Linked DNA regions of Homo sapiens. The protein of the gene in region 1 interacts with the protein of each later gene in a pairwise test. Each region holds a gene or a part of one and is shown in the gene's direction. Other genes may lie near its edges.

What was found. The genes of interacting proteins can lie anywhere in the genome.
Region 2: the proteins of CCDC120 (region 1) and CTBP2 interact in binary tests that used the Homo sapiens proteins (3 or more experiments, as listed by UniProt).

Annotation. Positions count from the first base shown.
Region 1 is NC_000023.11:49,061,877-49,069,014, forward strand, and holds part of CCDC120 (coiled-coil domain-containing protein 120), read left to right. Parts: intron 1-82; 5' UTR 83-165; coding exon 166-228; exon of another isoform or gene 229-241; intron 242-358; coding exon 359-449; intron 450-591; coding exon 592-725; intron 726-1,984; coding exon 1,985-2,125; intron 2,126-2,493; coding exon 2,494-2,788; intron 2,789-3,159; coding exon 3,160-3,222; intron 3,223-3,577; coding exon 3,578-3,752; intron 3,753-3,870; coding exon 3,871-3,969; intron 3,970-5,299; coding exon 5,300-6,214; coding exon of another isoform or gene 6,215-6,236; exon of another isoform or gene 6,237-6,667; coding exon 6,668-6,782; 3' UTR 6,783-7,138. UniProt on the Homo sapiens protein: Centriolar protein required for centriole subdistal appendage assembly and microtubule anchoring in interphase cells. Together with CCDC68, cooperate with subdistal appendage components ODF2, NIN and CEP170 for hierarchical subdistal appendage assembly.
Region 2 is NC_000010.11:124,989,564-124,996,563, reverse strand, and holds part of CTBP2 (C-terminal-binding protein 2), read left to right. Parts: intron 1-1,880; coding exon 1,881-2,095; intron 2,096-2,578; coding exon 2,579-2,709; intron 2,710-3,234; coding exon 3,235-3,362; intron 3,363-3,751; coding exon 3,752-3,869; intron 3,870-6,865; coding exon 6,866-7,000. UniProt on the Homo sapiens protein: Corepressor targeting diverse transcription regulators. Functions in brown adipose tissue (BAT) differentiation. Isoform 2 probably acts as a scaffold for specialized synapses.

The DNA of each region.
Region 1 (7,138 bases):
TGTTGCAGGCACCCAGGTGTTGACTGCGTGTCCATTGTTGTTATAGTTGGTTGAATCTGTCCCATTAATTCTCCTTCCCCAGGCAAGACTCGTGGCTGTGACCCATGGGCCTCTGAGGAGGCGTTGTAAGTCCGCCCAGCTCCCCACTTGCTGTGCTCTCACTCAATGCGAAGGGAACCAAGGTACCAGGGCCAAGTGGGTCCAGACATCCACACGGATTCTGAAAGGGCAGGTCAAGCAGGCACGTGGGGCCCAGGTTACCCCTTATTCCCCGCTGTGGCATGGGAAGCTGGGAAGGGCTGGGGGTTGGGGTATCATGGGATGTGCTTCCTTAACGGCTCCTTTGTGTCACTGCCAGACTTTGTCCAGCCATCAGCCACGGCCTCTCGACAGCACCAAGATGGAAGTCAAAGGTCAGCTGATCAGCTCTCCTACCTTCAATGCCCCAGGTCGGTGGCTGCTTCCCCTCCTGCTGCCTCCTCCCCTGCTCTGAATCACCACCTGCTTGCTCGGGAAGAGTTGGTCCCTTGCCCCACAGCTGCTCCAGAATGCCCTGGCTGTCCCACTGATCTTTGCTCCCTCTGTGTCCAGCTGCCCTGTTCGGAGAGGCTGCCCCCCAGGTGAAGTCAGAGCGTCTGCGGGGGCTGCTTGACCGGCAGCGGACCCTGCAGGAGGCCCTGAGCCTGAAACTTCAGGAGCTCCGCAAAGTGTGTCTCCAGGAGGCGGTGAGGGCCTGGCCCTAGGGGTATCAGGCGGGGAGGTTGGGAGGAGGTGAGGAGCTGGGGCCCCTAGGTAGACAGACTTGGGTGGCAATTCCTCAACCACTTGTCTTGGCTGTAGATTCCCTGTCACCTACTTTCTCCTCAAAGCTCAGCTTAGATGTGTTAGAATGAATGAAATAGGCTGGGCGCTGTGGCTCACGCCTGTAATCCCAGCACTTTGGGAGGCCGAGGCAGGTGGATCACCTGAGGTCGGGAGTTCCAGACCAGCCTGACCAACATGGAGAAATCCCGTCTCTACTAAAAATGCAAAATTAGGCTGGGCGCGGTGGCTCACGCCTGTAATCCCAGCACTTTGGGAGGCCGAGGTGGGCGGAACACGATGTCAGGAGATCGAGACCATCCTGGCTAACACGGTGTAACCCCGTCTCTACTAAAAATACAAAAAATTAGTCAGGCGTGGTGGCGGGCACCTATAGTTCCAGCTACTCGGGAGGCTGAGGCAGGAGAATGGCATGAACCCGGGAGGCGGAGCTTGCAGTGAGCCCAGATTGCGCCACTGCACTCCAGCCTGGGCGACAGAGCAAGACTCTGTCTCAAAAAAAAAAAAAAAAAGCAAAATTAGCTGGGTGTGGTGATCCTAGCAACTTGGGAGGCTGAGGCAGGAGAATCGCTTAAACCCTGGAGGTGGAGGTTGCGGTGAGCTGAGATTGCGCCATTGCACTCCAGCCTGGGCAACAAGAGCAAAACTCCACCTCAAAAAAAAAAAATATGGTAATACAGGCCCACTGTTGACAATTTCAAATCCAACAAACCTCAGAAAACAGGTTCTGTCCAAAATTTGGCAGCACAGTCTGACCTGAACTGGCACAGGCTGATCTGTAGTTTCAGTTTACCCCTCTTACTGTGAATGCCCACAGTGTGCCGGAAATAATACTACAGCTCAGACCACGCAGCCACAGCCCCTGAAGTGAGTTATATAATACTTAGGATCTCGATGGTATCACCTTTATAAAAACAAAACAATTCTGGATTCCAAAGCAGGTCTCCCTGCCTCCCATGCCCACCACCCCAGGGGTTTGGGCCACTGAGGTTTGGGCACACCTGCCTAGTGGAGATACTGGTAGGAGGGAGGGGAGTATCGTGCGTGGTTGCTGAGCAGGGCCAGGCTCCTGGTAGGACTTCTGTAGCTTCTGGGATCATTAATGCTTCACCCCATCCTTCCAACTAACCCTTGGTAGTCTCTGACCCCTGCCTCCCACCAGGAGCTGACTGGCCAGCTGCCCCCTGAGTGCCCACTAGAGCCTGGTGAACGGCCCCAGTTGGTCCGCCGGCGGCCCCCCACAGCCCGCGCCTACCCTCCACCGCACCCCAACCAAGCACACCACTCCTTGTGCCCTGCTGAGGTGAGCAGATGGGTGTGGAGAGCAAGAGGGTGGGAAGAGGGGACAGGTACAGAGGAGTAGCCAGGAGGAAGGTGTGGGGAGGGGGCTTGTGGCCAGGTGAGGGAGAGGCTAAGATGAGAAGGAAAAGGGCTTCTGGAGTTAGTTTCCTGTGATGAGGGAGGATGCTGGTCCCTAACTGTCAGGACAGGCCTCCAACCCTAAGGAAGATGAACAGACCCAGCCCTTCACCAAGAGAGGCCCTGACACGCCCCCTCCCCGGGGTGAATAGGTCTGAATAGGCTGCAGGAAGTGCAGGCCAGCCTCTACTGGGTTTGGCCCCGCCAGGTCCCTGTTCCTGGCCATTTCCAACATTTGGGTGGGCCCAACAGGAGCTGGCTCTTGAGGCCCTGGAACGCGAGGTGTCAGTGCAACAGCAGATCGCGGCGGCCGCCCGCCGCCTGGCCTTGGCCCCTGATCTGAGCACCGAGCAGCGCCGGCGCCGGCGCCAGGTCCAGGCAGATGCACTGAGGAGGCTGCATGAGCTAGAGGAGCAGCTCAGGGATGTCCGGGCCCGCCTTGGCCTCCCAGTGCTCCCGCTGCCCCAGCCACTGCCACTGTCCACGGGGTCAGTGATCACCACCCAGGGAGTCTGCCTGGGCATGCGTCTTGCTCAGCTCAGCCAAGGTGAGCATCCCCTGGTGAGGGTGGGAGAGTGGACACTGGCAAATGGACGTGGTAGGGCTGGGATGGGTGACTGGCCGGTGAAAACCGGGAGGTAGGCACAACTCAAGTGGCCCAACCCGTGAGAAGAGTTGTGACAAACTGGCTTACCGGAAAGGACAAACTGTGGGGGACTGATGAATATCTGCCAGGACAGTCAGGAACCAAACTGGGGTGGTCTTGGGCTCTGGTAAAAGCAGATTCTTGGGACAGGAACAGGATGAGGCGGAAACTGGCCAGAAGGTGGCCCAAGTAGAGGTGCCCACCCAGTGGTGTAAGGGGGCAGCACCCAGGCCTGGGAGTGAGAGGCCCACTTCTCCCCCTCTCACCTGTAGAGGACGTAGTTCTGCACTCAGAGAGCAGCTCCCTCTCAGAGTCTGGGGCCAGCCATGACAACGGTGAGGACTCCTATCCCCCAAACCTGCCCCCGACTCCTACGTCCCTTTAGCCCATCCCCTTTATTCATCCGACCACATCCTGCATGATCAGCCCATCCTTTGATGCCCAGCCCCTCCTGTGCTGCTTCAGCTTCTCCTTAGCCATGCTCCATCTTCCTATGGGTCCCCCATCTTCTTAGCCTCACCCCACCCCAGCCCCACAGCCCCAGAACCTACTTGTCAGCCTTAGTTCCTCCTCAGCCTGCTTAACCTGTCCCAGCACTTTGCCCCTCCCCATGGCCTTGCCCCCCAGCCTGTCCTGCCCCCTCTGGGCCCCCCTCATTGAATTCTATCCCACTTGCTCTCTTCCACTCAGAGGAGCCCCATGGCTGCTTCTCTCTGGCCGAGCGCCCCTCACCACCCAAGGCTTGGGACCAGCTGCGGGCAGTATCTGGGGGGAGCCCTGAGCGGCGAACCCCATGGAAACCACCTCCATCAGATCTTTATGGGGATCTGAAGAGCCGGCGGAACTCTGTGGCCAGCCCCACCAGGTGAGAATGAGCCCCTCCTCCCCTCCGCAGGAGCTGGGAATGGGATAGCAAGCCTGGGCTGGCAGAGGGTCTGCTGGTGGGTACAGTCTCTAACCTAGGCCTGCCTGTCTCTGTCTAGCCCCACACGCTCGCTGCCCAGGAGTGCCTCCAGTTTTGAGGGGCGAAGTGTGCCTGCCACCCCTGTCCTCACCCGGGGCGCTGGCCCCCAGCTCTGCAAGTAAGGGGAATCTGAGGGTGGGCTGGAGGATCAGAGGGGAGGGAACCATTAGTTCTCACTGGAAGCTTGAGGACAACATTATCAAAAGGTGGGATGGCTGGGCGCGGTGGCTCACGCTTGTAATCCCAGCACTTTCGGAGGCCGAGGCGGGCGGGTTACTTGAGGTCAGGGGTTCAAGACCAGCCTGACCAACATGGTGAAACCCTGTCTCTACTAAAAATACAAAAATTAGCTGGGCATGGTGGGGCATGCCTGTAATCCCAGCTACTTCGGAGGCTGAGGCAGGAGAATCGCTTGAACCCGGGAGGCGGAGGTTGCAGTGAGCTGAGATCAACATCGTGCCATTGCACTCCAGCCTGGGCGACAAGAGCGAAACTCCGTCTCAAAACAAACAAAAAAACAAAAGGTGTGGGACATGGGAGGCTGGGCATTAAAGGTGAGCAGGCATCTCGGTGGATAATGGGGTAGGAGTCAGTCTCCTCATTTGTGAAATGGAAATAATAATATCTGCCTTTGAAAGACATGGACATAATAAGTTCTGGTTAACATATACTGAGTGCCTGCCATCTGCTAGGAATTAGTGTTTTACGTGGCATCAACTCATTTAATCATAATCAGATCCCTGTGAGGTGGGTGCTATTGTTATTCCCATTTTATAGATGAGGCAAGTGAGGCACAGAAAGGTTAAGTAACTTGTTAGTAAACTGAAGTCCTGGAGTTTGAGCCCAGGCAAGTTTTACTCTAGAGTCCATGCTTTTAACCACTGTCCTCTTCTGCTTCTTAAACAGAGTGCCTACTTTCCCCAGGCTCTGAACAAAACCAAGTCCCCTTCCTTGTGGGGCTTGCATTCTGTGAACGGTGGCTGTTGGGATGGTAGCTTTGGGTGGTTCATACGTATGGTCGGATAGAGAATTCAGGCAGGGTTTTACATGTGAGCCCTAAGGCCTAGGACTTAATCCTGGAGGCCGTGCGAGCCATGAGAACGGCCTTAGCAGGGGGAGGGGTCAGCTGGATTAGGAACAGCCCCCTGCCCGGCATCTACTCTGCTAGCCTTTCCTCTGAGTCCCTACACAGATTTACACCTCCCTTGGAGCTAACAGTGCCAGGCCTCCCCCACGCATTTCTACCCCTGACCGCCTAGCCTAGGATAGAACCTCAGCTGCCCTTTACATGTCACTACCTGCCACCTTTATACACACAGCTTCCAACCTTGGGCCCATTTGGAGATGTGAAAGTGAAGGCTTAGAAAGGGCTGGGGTAGGGAGGGCACTGCACGCCTTCTGCCTGATTTTTCTGACCCTATTCCCATGACCCTCGCCTCTCACCCCAGACCTGAAGGCCTTCATTCTCGTCAGTGGTCCGGCAGCCAGGACTCCCAGATGGGCTTCCCCCGGGCGGACCCTGCCTCCGATCGCGCCTCCCTCTTCGTAGCTCGCACCCGCCGCAGCAACAGTTCTGAGGCCCTGCTGGTGGACCGGGCCGCTGGTGGGGGAGCTGGCTCCCCGCCTGCCCCTCTGGCTCCCTCTGCCTCTGGCCCCCCAGTCTGCAAGAGCAGTGAGGTGCTGTATGAGCGCCCCCAACCAACCCCTGCCTTCTCCTCCCGCACAGCAGGCCCCCCAGACCCTCCCCGGGCCGCCCGGCCTAGCTCAGCTGCCCCTGCCTCCCGAGGTGCCCCCCGGCTCCCACCTGTGTGTGGAGACTTCCTCTTGGACTATTCCTTGGACCGGGGCCTGCCCCGCAGTGGCGGTGGAACAGGCTGGGGGGAGCTGCCGCCTGCAGCTGAGGTCCCAGGACCCCTCTCCCGCCGGGATGGGCTCCTCACCATGCTCCCCGGCCCACCACCTGTGTATGCAGCTGACAGCAACAGCCCCCTCCTCCGCACCAAGGACCCCCACACCCGTGCCACCCGCACTAAGCCCTGTGGCCTGCCCCCAGAGGCTGCCGAAGGCCCTGAGGTGCATCCAAACCCTCTGCTGTGGATGCCCCCACCCACCCGTATCCCCTCGGCTGGTGAACGCAGTGGCCACAAGAACCTGGCTCTGGAGGGGCTGCGGGACTGGTACATCCGGAACTCGGGACTGGCTGCGGGGCCCCAGCGCCGGCCTGTGCTCCCTTCCGTGGGCCCGCCACACCCACCCTTCCTCCATGCCCGCTGCTATGAGGTGGGCCAGGCGCTGTACGGGGCCCCCAGCCAGGCGCCACTCCCACACTCGAGGAGTTTCACGGCGCCCCCTGTCTCTGGCAGGTATGGGGGGTGCTTTTACTGATGGGTAGGGGTCTCGTAAGGCAGATGGCGAAGATATCCAGGCCAGGGAGTGGCTAGTCATGATAGCTAATGAATTGGACCATGAGGAAACTAGCTGCTGTGATGGCACAGGGTCACTCTACTGCACATGACCTGCATTAGTCCATGGGGTCCTGGTGGAGGGGATCTTGGGCACTGGTAGCAGCAATTCTTTATCAAGTTATAGGCTGAAGATGAGCCTTGAAGCCAGGGTGCCGGGAGGAAGGGACATCTCATGCCCCTTGCTGTTTTCTTCCTTTTTTCTCCATGCCCCAGAGCCTGAAAGTGCTGTCCTGTGCCTGCCTCCACCTCTTTAACGAGCCTCTTTTCCTTTCTTTTTCTGTGTCTTGTCTGTCTTTTCTTCTTCTTGTCTTCCCCGCCCTGTCCTCCGGATTCCTGCTACCCCTTCTAAAGATACTACGCGGACTTCCTGTATCCCCCGGAGCTGAGCGCTCGTTTAAGTGACCTGACGCTAGAGGGGGAGCAGTCCTCCAGTTCTGACACCCAGACCCCGGGGACACTGGTCTGACCCCTTCTGATATGTCCCTTGTTGGCCTGGGCACGATTCCAATCTGGGGAGCACACAGCTGACCTCGCTGGGCCCTGGGGTGTGGTTGCTCTCAGTCCTGAGCAGAGTGCGCCAACCTAATCTTCCAAGGCCCCTGGCTCCCCGTAGGCCCAGGAAGGTGTCTGACACCCTGCTTCTTCTCTCACACTGTGCTGGGGACTGGGGGCCCTCAGCTAGCTTAAAAGAGGGGGGATGATGTCATGGGGACCCCAAGCCCCTTCCTCCATTTATGTTTACAGTTGTGACTTAGGTATTCACTGTCTTCCTCCAACACTAGGCGTTTTACAAAAGGGAAACTGTGATCTCATCTGGTTGGG
Region 2 (7,000 bases), on another chromosome or scaffold:
CTCTCGGTGTATAGAGGTCAGTGCAGCCCCCTGCCGCCGCCCTGTTTTCTCGAGACTGTACACTAACCCCTGCCGCCACCACCCTGGATCCTCAGCACAGGGACTGTCGTGCTCTCCTTGTTCCCTTTCCAGGTGTCTCTGTAGCCTTCAGGACTGTCGCTGCTGCAGCCATCCTGGGCTAAGAGCTTTTGCTGGCCTCGGGTTCTACTGAGCAAGAGTCCCCCAGGCCCAGCGGGCTCAGTGCAGCAGGCGGGGTGGGACGGTGCCGCCAAGAGAGGGCAGCCTGGGGCTGGGGGCATGGACAGAAACTGAAGGAAAGGCAGCCTGTGGGAGCTGCGCTTTTAAAATAAGCGGCATGGGGGGCCGGGGGGGGCGCTGTGACGGGGGAGCAGGTCTCTTCTGTAGGGACTGGGTTTTGATTAAGTCAGTAGCAGGATTAAGTCATTGGGTCATCAGAAAATCTCATGGATAAAGTTCAAGGGGTTTGTGAACTTTAAAAAAAAAAAAAAAAAAAACAAAGAAATAGCCGTCGGCACGGTTCAAATCTGGGCTTGGTGCTCTGGGCTGCTTTTCCACAGGCCCTCCAGGCCCTGGATCTGCAGAGTGTGAGCCCCACTGATTGAAGCATGTTCGTGCACAGACGCCATGAGGGGGATGGAGGCTGCAGGAACGGGGGAAGGCAGGCGGGGGTCCTGTGAAGTGTGAGCTCCCAGCAGTTGCATGCTGGGGTCCTCAGTTTCATGTTGCCAGTGCGTCAGAGAGCCATCTCTCACTCCGTCCCTGCCACCGTCCAGTCCTGCCTGCTGTAAAGGGTGACACTGAGGAGGAGAGGCGTGATGGTTCGTGCCTTGCTATACTAGTTGTCCTGCAGCTGTCCCTGATCAGACTGGCCTTATTCAACCTTTGTTCTAAACTACGGCAGTTGTCCTAGCCAGGCCATCGGTTAGATGGAGCTGCTGCAGGAGGAGCCATCCAGCATTGAGGTACCCCTGGAACACAGGCTGCCTGCTCGGAAATGCGCATCTTTGTCCTTCTCCTGCCTGCACCTTGGAGCCATGGCTTTAAAGATTCCTTCTGTGATCTCCAAGAGAACCAGTCGAGCATCAACACTAACCATTTTGTTTTCAAAATGCTGAAAACTGCTCTGGGAAGCTGGAGGTGCTATCGAGGGGGACCCCATGGGTTTATGAAATGACAGCCGTTGGGGAGTGGGAGACACCTCCTCATCCTGTGACATAGCTGGCGGGAGGCCCAGGCTGCATAATGCAGATGGGCGCGAGGCCCCACCAGTGGGACAGGTCCAGGTCTGATGGTCATGTGCCCTGCCTCCCGCCCAGAACACAGTAGCATGTGGCCAGTCTGCACTCGGGCCAGCCTGCAGGGAGCCATTGTGCTCATGTCACCCTTTGCAGGAGCGAGCCCAGCAATGAGGAGGCAGGACATTACTCCCTGTGACATTGAGAGCAAGTTTTTCAAACACAAAGCTCATGTTAAGAAGCCTGCAGTGCACACAAGAAGTGGGGAGAGGGGTGGGAACGGAGGACACGGGTGGTGATGGGAGGGGCATGTGGGCTTGTCAGAACACTCTGTGTTTGAAAATGTCAATAACAAGGAAGGGTTTTGTTTTGTTTTTAACAAAAATCCTGCTGTACCCAATATAAGCAGCAAGCACTGCGGTCCTCACCTGTCCTACACCGGCCATGGTGGCCCCTCGCGGGCAGTGCTCGCCTCAGGCCTCACTAAGCTTTGGGCACACGGTTTCTCTGGCAGCAGCTACCAGCGGGGATGCCAAGCCCGGACTCAGCTCAGAAGCAATGGAGGTGGCAGCGCTGGGGCGCGGGCTGTGGACTCACTCACCTGGACGCTCTGTTTCTGTACAGGTCGCACGGGGCAGGCGGTTGCAGTTCGAGCCAAGGCCTTTGGATTCAGCGTCATATTTTATGACCCCTACTTGCAGGATGGGATCGAGCGGTCCCTGGGCGTGCAGAGGGTCTACACCCTGCAGGATTTGCTGTATCAGAGCGACTGCGTCTCCTTGCACTGCAATCTCAACGAACATAACCACCACCTCATCAATGACTTTACCATAAAGCAGGTAATTTGAAAATAGATGCCATGGAAGCTTCTGTCGAAAGGTGGTAGCACTTGCTTGTGGGCACAAGAGGGACACGGAGGGCAACGGAGGTGGTTTCTGGATACACTGTTGAGCAGGGAAGAGGCCCTGCAACAAACCAGTGACAAGCCACGTGAAGCCCCTTCCTCGGGCTGAGCCAGGCTAAGCAGAGAAGGACAGGCGCTAGCCAGGACCCAGCTTCAGAAGCTTCCCAGAACCTTTAAAGAGGCCAGCAGCTCGGCACAGTCCAGCCTTTCCACCGTGTTGCTTCCTCTCAGGATCAGCAGCAACGGCCCTGGCTTCCAGCCGTCACCAACACTTCCCACTCCCTTCCCTCAAACTGCAGCACACACATTAAACCACCAGACCAACAAAACTAGCTTGCAGCTTTCTTCTTTAAACCTTGGTACAAGAGTCTTCCACCATGCCAGTGTGCCTGTAACCGGCTTTTCTTTCCTTCCACAGATGAGGCAGGGAGCATTCCTTGTGAACGCAGCCCGTGGCGGCCTGGTGGACGAGAAAGCCTTAGCACAAGCCCTCAAGGAGGGCAGGATACGAGGGGCAGCCCTCGACGTGCATGAGTCAGAGCCCTTCAGGTGCGTGTTGCCCCAGCCGCCTACCAGGAGCCCACAGGGCCCAGCTCCACACCTGACCCCCACACTTTGAACTCGAGGCCCTTTTCCCAAACAGGTCCCTGGGCAGGAAACTCCAGAGATGACATTTACAGTCTCTGTTCTTCTAAGGATTGTGCTGTATTCTAATTGTAAAAGGGCTGGAAGTTTCCCAGAGGTCATCAGGGAAAGGAGAGGCAGAAAATTGGTGGGGGTGTGGCAGTGGTTCTGGTCTTCAGACAGACAGGCATCATCTCTGCCCTGGATTACAGCAGGACAAGCCTTCAATAGAATTGGGCTTTTTGATCTACCAATTATACGGTTCTTACACAACTTTGATAATTACATTCAAAAATTCCCAGCCTTCATAAAATATCATCACAGATGTTCCTGTATCCATGCTATCTATGTAGCTACTTTTCTACATGGCCAAGAGCTCCCTTGTGCTGAGGAGGGCAGGGAGCGTATGCGACATTTCCCGCTTACTCTGTTTTTTCTACATTTTTCTAGCTTTGCTCAGGGTCCGTTGAAAGATGCCCCGAATCTCATCTGCACTCCTCACACTGCCTGGTACAGTGAGCAGGCGTCACTGGAGATGAGGGAGGCAGCTGCCACCGAGATCCGCCGAGCCATCACAGGTGAGCCCCTCCGTGCCTCTGGCCTGCCAAGGGCAGCCTCAGCTCCACAGTGCAGCCGGCTCCTGTCCTGCTGGCTACAGGCAGCTCTCGACAGGTAGAATTCACTTTTAGCATCAAATTTATATGAGTTGGGCCCTGTTTATTTACGTAAGCCCTGAACTAAACTTCACAGAGGGAACCATTCCCTTTAGTCCCAGACATTATAAACTCGGGGGTCGGGGGGCACACAGAGGCTGAAGGTCAGTGTTGAAGAGCTCAAGCACTTGGGCCTTTGGATGTTCTACATTTTTACAAATGCTTATTTCCCCACATAAGCAGCTACAGGTGTAATGTTGAACTTACTGTGATTTGTAAAAATAATATGATTAATTTTAATCATCTTACCCTAGGTCGCATCCCAGAAAGCTTAAGAAATTGTGTGAACAAGGAATTCTTTGTCACATCAGCGCCTTGGTCAGTAATAGACCAGCAAGCAATTCATCCTGAGCTCAATGGTGCCACATACAGGTGAGAAAAGGAACTGACTTTGTCTCAGCTTGTGAGCACCACGGCCCCGGGGCCAGGGAGAGAAGCCCAAACTTGGCGGAAGCTTAACCTCCCGCAGATGCTAAGTCAGGGTCAGAACAATCAGCCTTCTCAGCAGGAACTGTGTACACCGCCCCCATTTCTTCCAATGCCTAATTTCATGGAACAAACAGAAGCTCCTATTTTAAAAGGGGGTGTGTTCGGTCAGATGTGATTGACCACAGGTGCTAGGAACTGCCTTTCATTCTAAAGCCATCTTAAAACCAGAAGGCTTCCCAGTCACGTGTGGTGGCGCACACCTGCAGTCTCAGCTGCTAGGGAGGCTGAGGTGGGAGAGGTGCTTGAAGCTGGGAGGTGGAGATTGCAGTGAGCCGAGATCACCCACTGCACTCCAGCCTAGGCCACAGAGTGAGACAATGCTGCTACCCCCCGACCCCACCCCACCACCAAAAAAAAAAAAAAAAAAAGGGCTTCTCAAAGAGAAAGGTATACGTAGATAAGATGTTCAAGTGCAAAGGCCTGTGAGCAAGTTCATTTTCCAATTTGAATCTTATGTCCACAGAAGGCATTCTGGTACAGTCAACTCAGGATAGTACAATCAACTCAGGATGATGACCTTGTCCACACACTAAAAATGATACCTGTAGTTTGGGTCAGCTGAGAAACTGGAGCCATGTTTGGGAACGCAGAGTGGGGGAAAGACAGGAGCCCTCACAGGGAGAAGGGGTTCCTTTTGTGGTATTTTCCATGCACGAATCGGTTTTCTCCCACACCCCCCCCCCCATTATTGCTGGCTTCCCAGGAAAATCAGTAGCCCCCTCATGCATAAATGAATGAAGTTGCAGCCTTGAATCTTAAGAAAAATTTTTGCATATTCTAAACCAGGGTTTCTAGCTCTTGGCAATAAGTATATTTGGGGCCAGATCATTCTCTTCATTCTCTCGTAGGAGGCCTGGCCTGTCCTGTGCATTGTAGGACGTTCAGCGGCATCCCTGGCCTCTACCCACGGGATGCCAGTAGCACCTCCCACTCCCACTCATGATGATTGAGAATGTCTCCAGCCACATGTCCCCTGCTGTAGCCACAGTGACGACCAGGGTGCATTCAGTTTGTGTAATGAAGGCTCTGACACTCTTGAAGAAGCTATGCCGGTGCTTGCAGGTCACATGGCTGTCTTCACATTTCATCCAGCCCCGTCCTTTTGGCCCTCAAAAGTATTTTGAGCCTATCACAGCACCAGATTCCCCTGTTGGGTGGAGCTGGGGGCCCACCTCTTCCATGTCTCCATTGTTATTTATCCTTCACGTAAGCTGGGGCTCTTAGGCCCCCTAGAACAGTATGTGTGCACTGAGGAAGGGACCCTAATGACCAGAGTCCTTCTGAAGGTCTTGGTGACAGGATGGCAGGCCAGGAGCTGGGGGTGGGGTGGCTACCATAGTGAGATGCCTCCTCCTCTACCTGGATGGATGATAAGTCTGTGTGAATACACTGAGTCCCACTTTGCCCGAGGACCCTGTGTTCTGTGGTTGGCGAATGCAGTGTGTCCTCACACAGCACTTCGTGCTTGCAATATAAAACCAGCCCGAGCCTGGGCGTTCCGAGGAAGGCGGGCCCCCAGCCAACAGCCAGCAAGCATACCACTTCCCATCTCAGGCCATGGGAGTATATAGCCAACCAGCCTAGAAAGCTTAGTGAGTTCTGGCTGCCATAATTGAGTAGCATAGACTGGGTGGCTTGTAAAGAAATGCCTTGCTCGCAGTTCTGGAGGCTGGAAGTCTGAGATGAGGCTGCCAGCATGGTCAGGTTCTGGTGACGGCCAGGCAGCAGACCGTCAGCTTCTTCCCACATCCTCATATGGCAGAGAGAGGGCCAGAGCACTGACTAGACTCCCTTGTGTAAAGGCACTGATCCCATTCATGACCCAGTCATTTCCTCACCCAGTCACTTCCCAAGGGCTCTACCTCTTAAGGTCATCACCTTTAAGGTGTGGGATTTGAACTGGAATTAGGGGGATGGAGGGAGACAAACATTGAGTCCCTAAGGGTCCATTGTACTCTGTTGGGAAATCATTTTATCAGTCAGAAGTAACTGGTGAACAGTTGGGAGTCCATTTTGTACAAAGTGGGTTTTTTTAAATAGTATAATGTATCCACATTCATAAATAGTATGGGCTAATATCTTCTTATCTAAAAGCTACAAAATTAGTGGCCCCGTGTTTGGATTGGACTAGTTTTGTTTTTATGAATTAGTTGCCAGTGTTTTATATAAAAATTGAGACTTCTCCTTGCTTTGGGGATAGGGAAGATAAACTATCCCATAAAAATCGTTAGCCAGGGCCGGGCATGGTGGCTCACGCCTGTAATCCCAGCACTTTGGGAGGCTGAGGCGGGCGGATCACGAGGTCGGGAGATTGAGACCATCCTGGCCAACGTGGTGAAACCCCGTCTCTACTAAAAATATAAAAATTAGCCGGGTGTGGTAGCGCACACCTGTAGTCCCAGCTACTTGGGAGGCTGAGGCAGGAGAATCACTTTAACCCAGGAGGCAGAGGTTGCAGTGGGCTGAGATTGCTCACGCCACTGCACTCCAGACTGGCGACAGAGTGAGACTCCATCTCAAAAAAAAAAAAAAAAACTATTAGCCAGGCCTGGTGTCTCTCGCCTGTACTCCCAGGACTCTGGGAGGCCTATGATGGGGCATCACTTGAGCTCAAGAGTTTGAGACCAGCCTGGGCAGTCTGGCAAAACCGCATCTCTACAAAAAAATACAAAAACTAGCTAGGCGTGGTGGCTCATGCCTGTGGTCGCCACTACTTGGGTGTCTGAGGTGGGATCACTTGAGCCCAGAAGGTCGGTCAAGGTGAGCCATGTTCATGTCACTGGGCTCCTGTCTCTTATGAAAAGGCCAGAAGTAGAAGAGCCAAGAGCTTGGCAACTCTGCCCTGAACTTACAAGGCCCTATTTCTGTGTGTTCCTTAGATATCCGCCAGGCATCGTGGGTGTGGCTCCAGGAGGACTTCCTGCAGCCATGGAAGGGATCATCCCTGGAGGCATCCCAGTGACTCACAACCTCCCGACAGTGGCACATCCTTCCCAAGCGCCCTCTCCCAACCA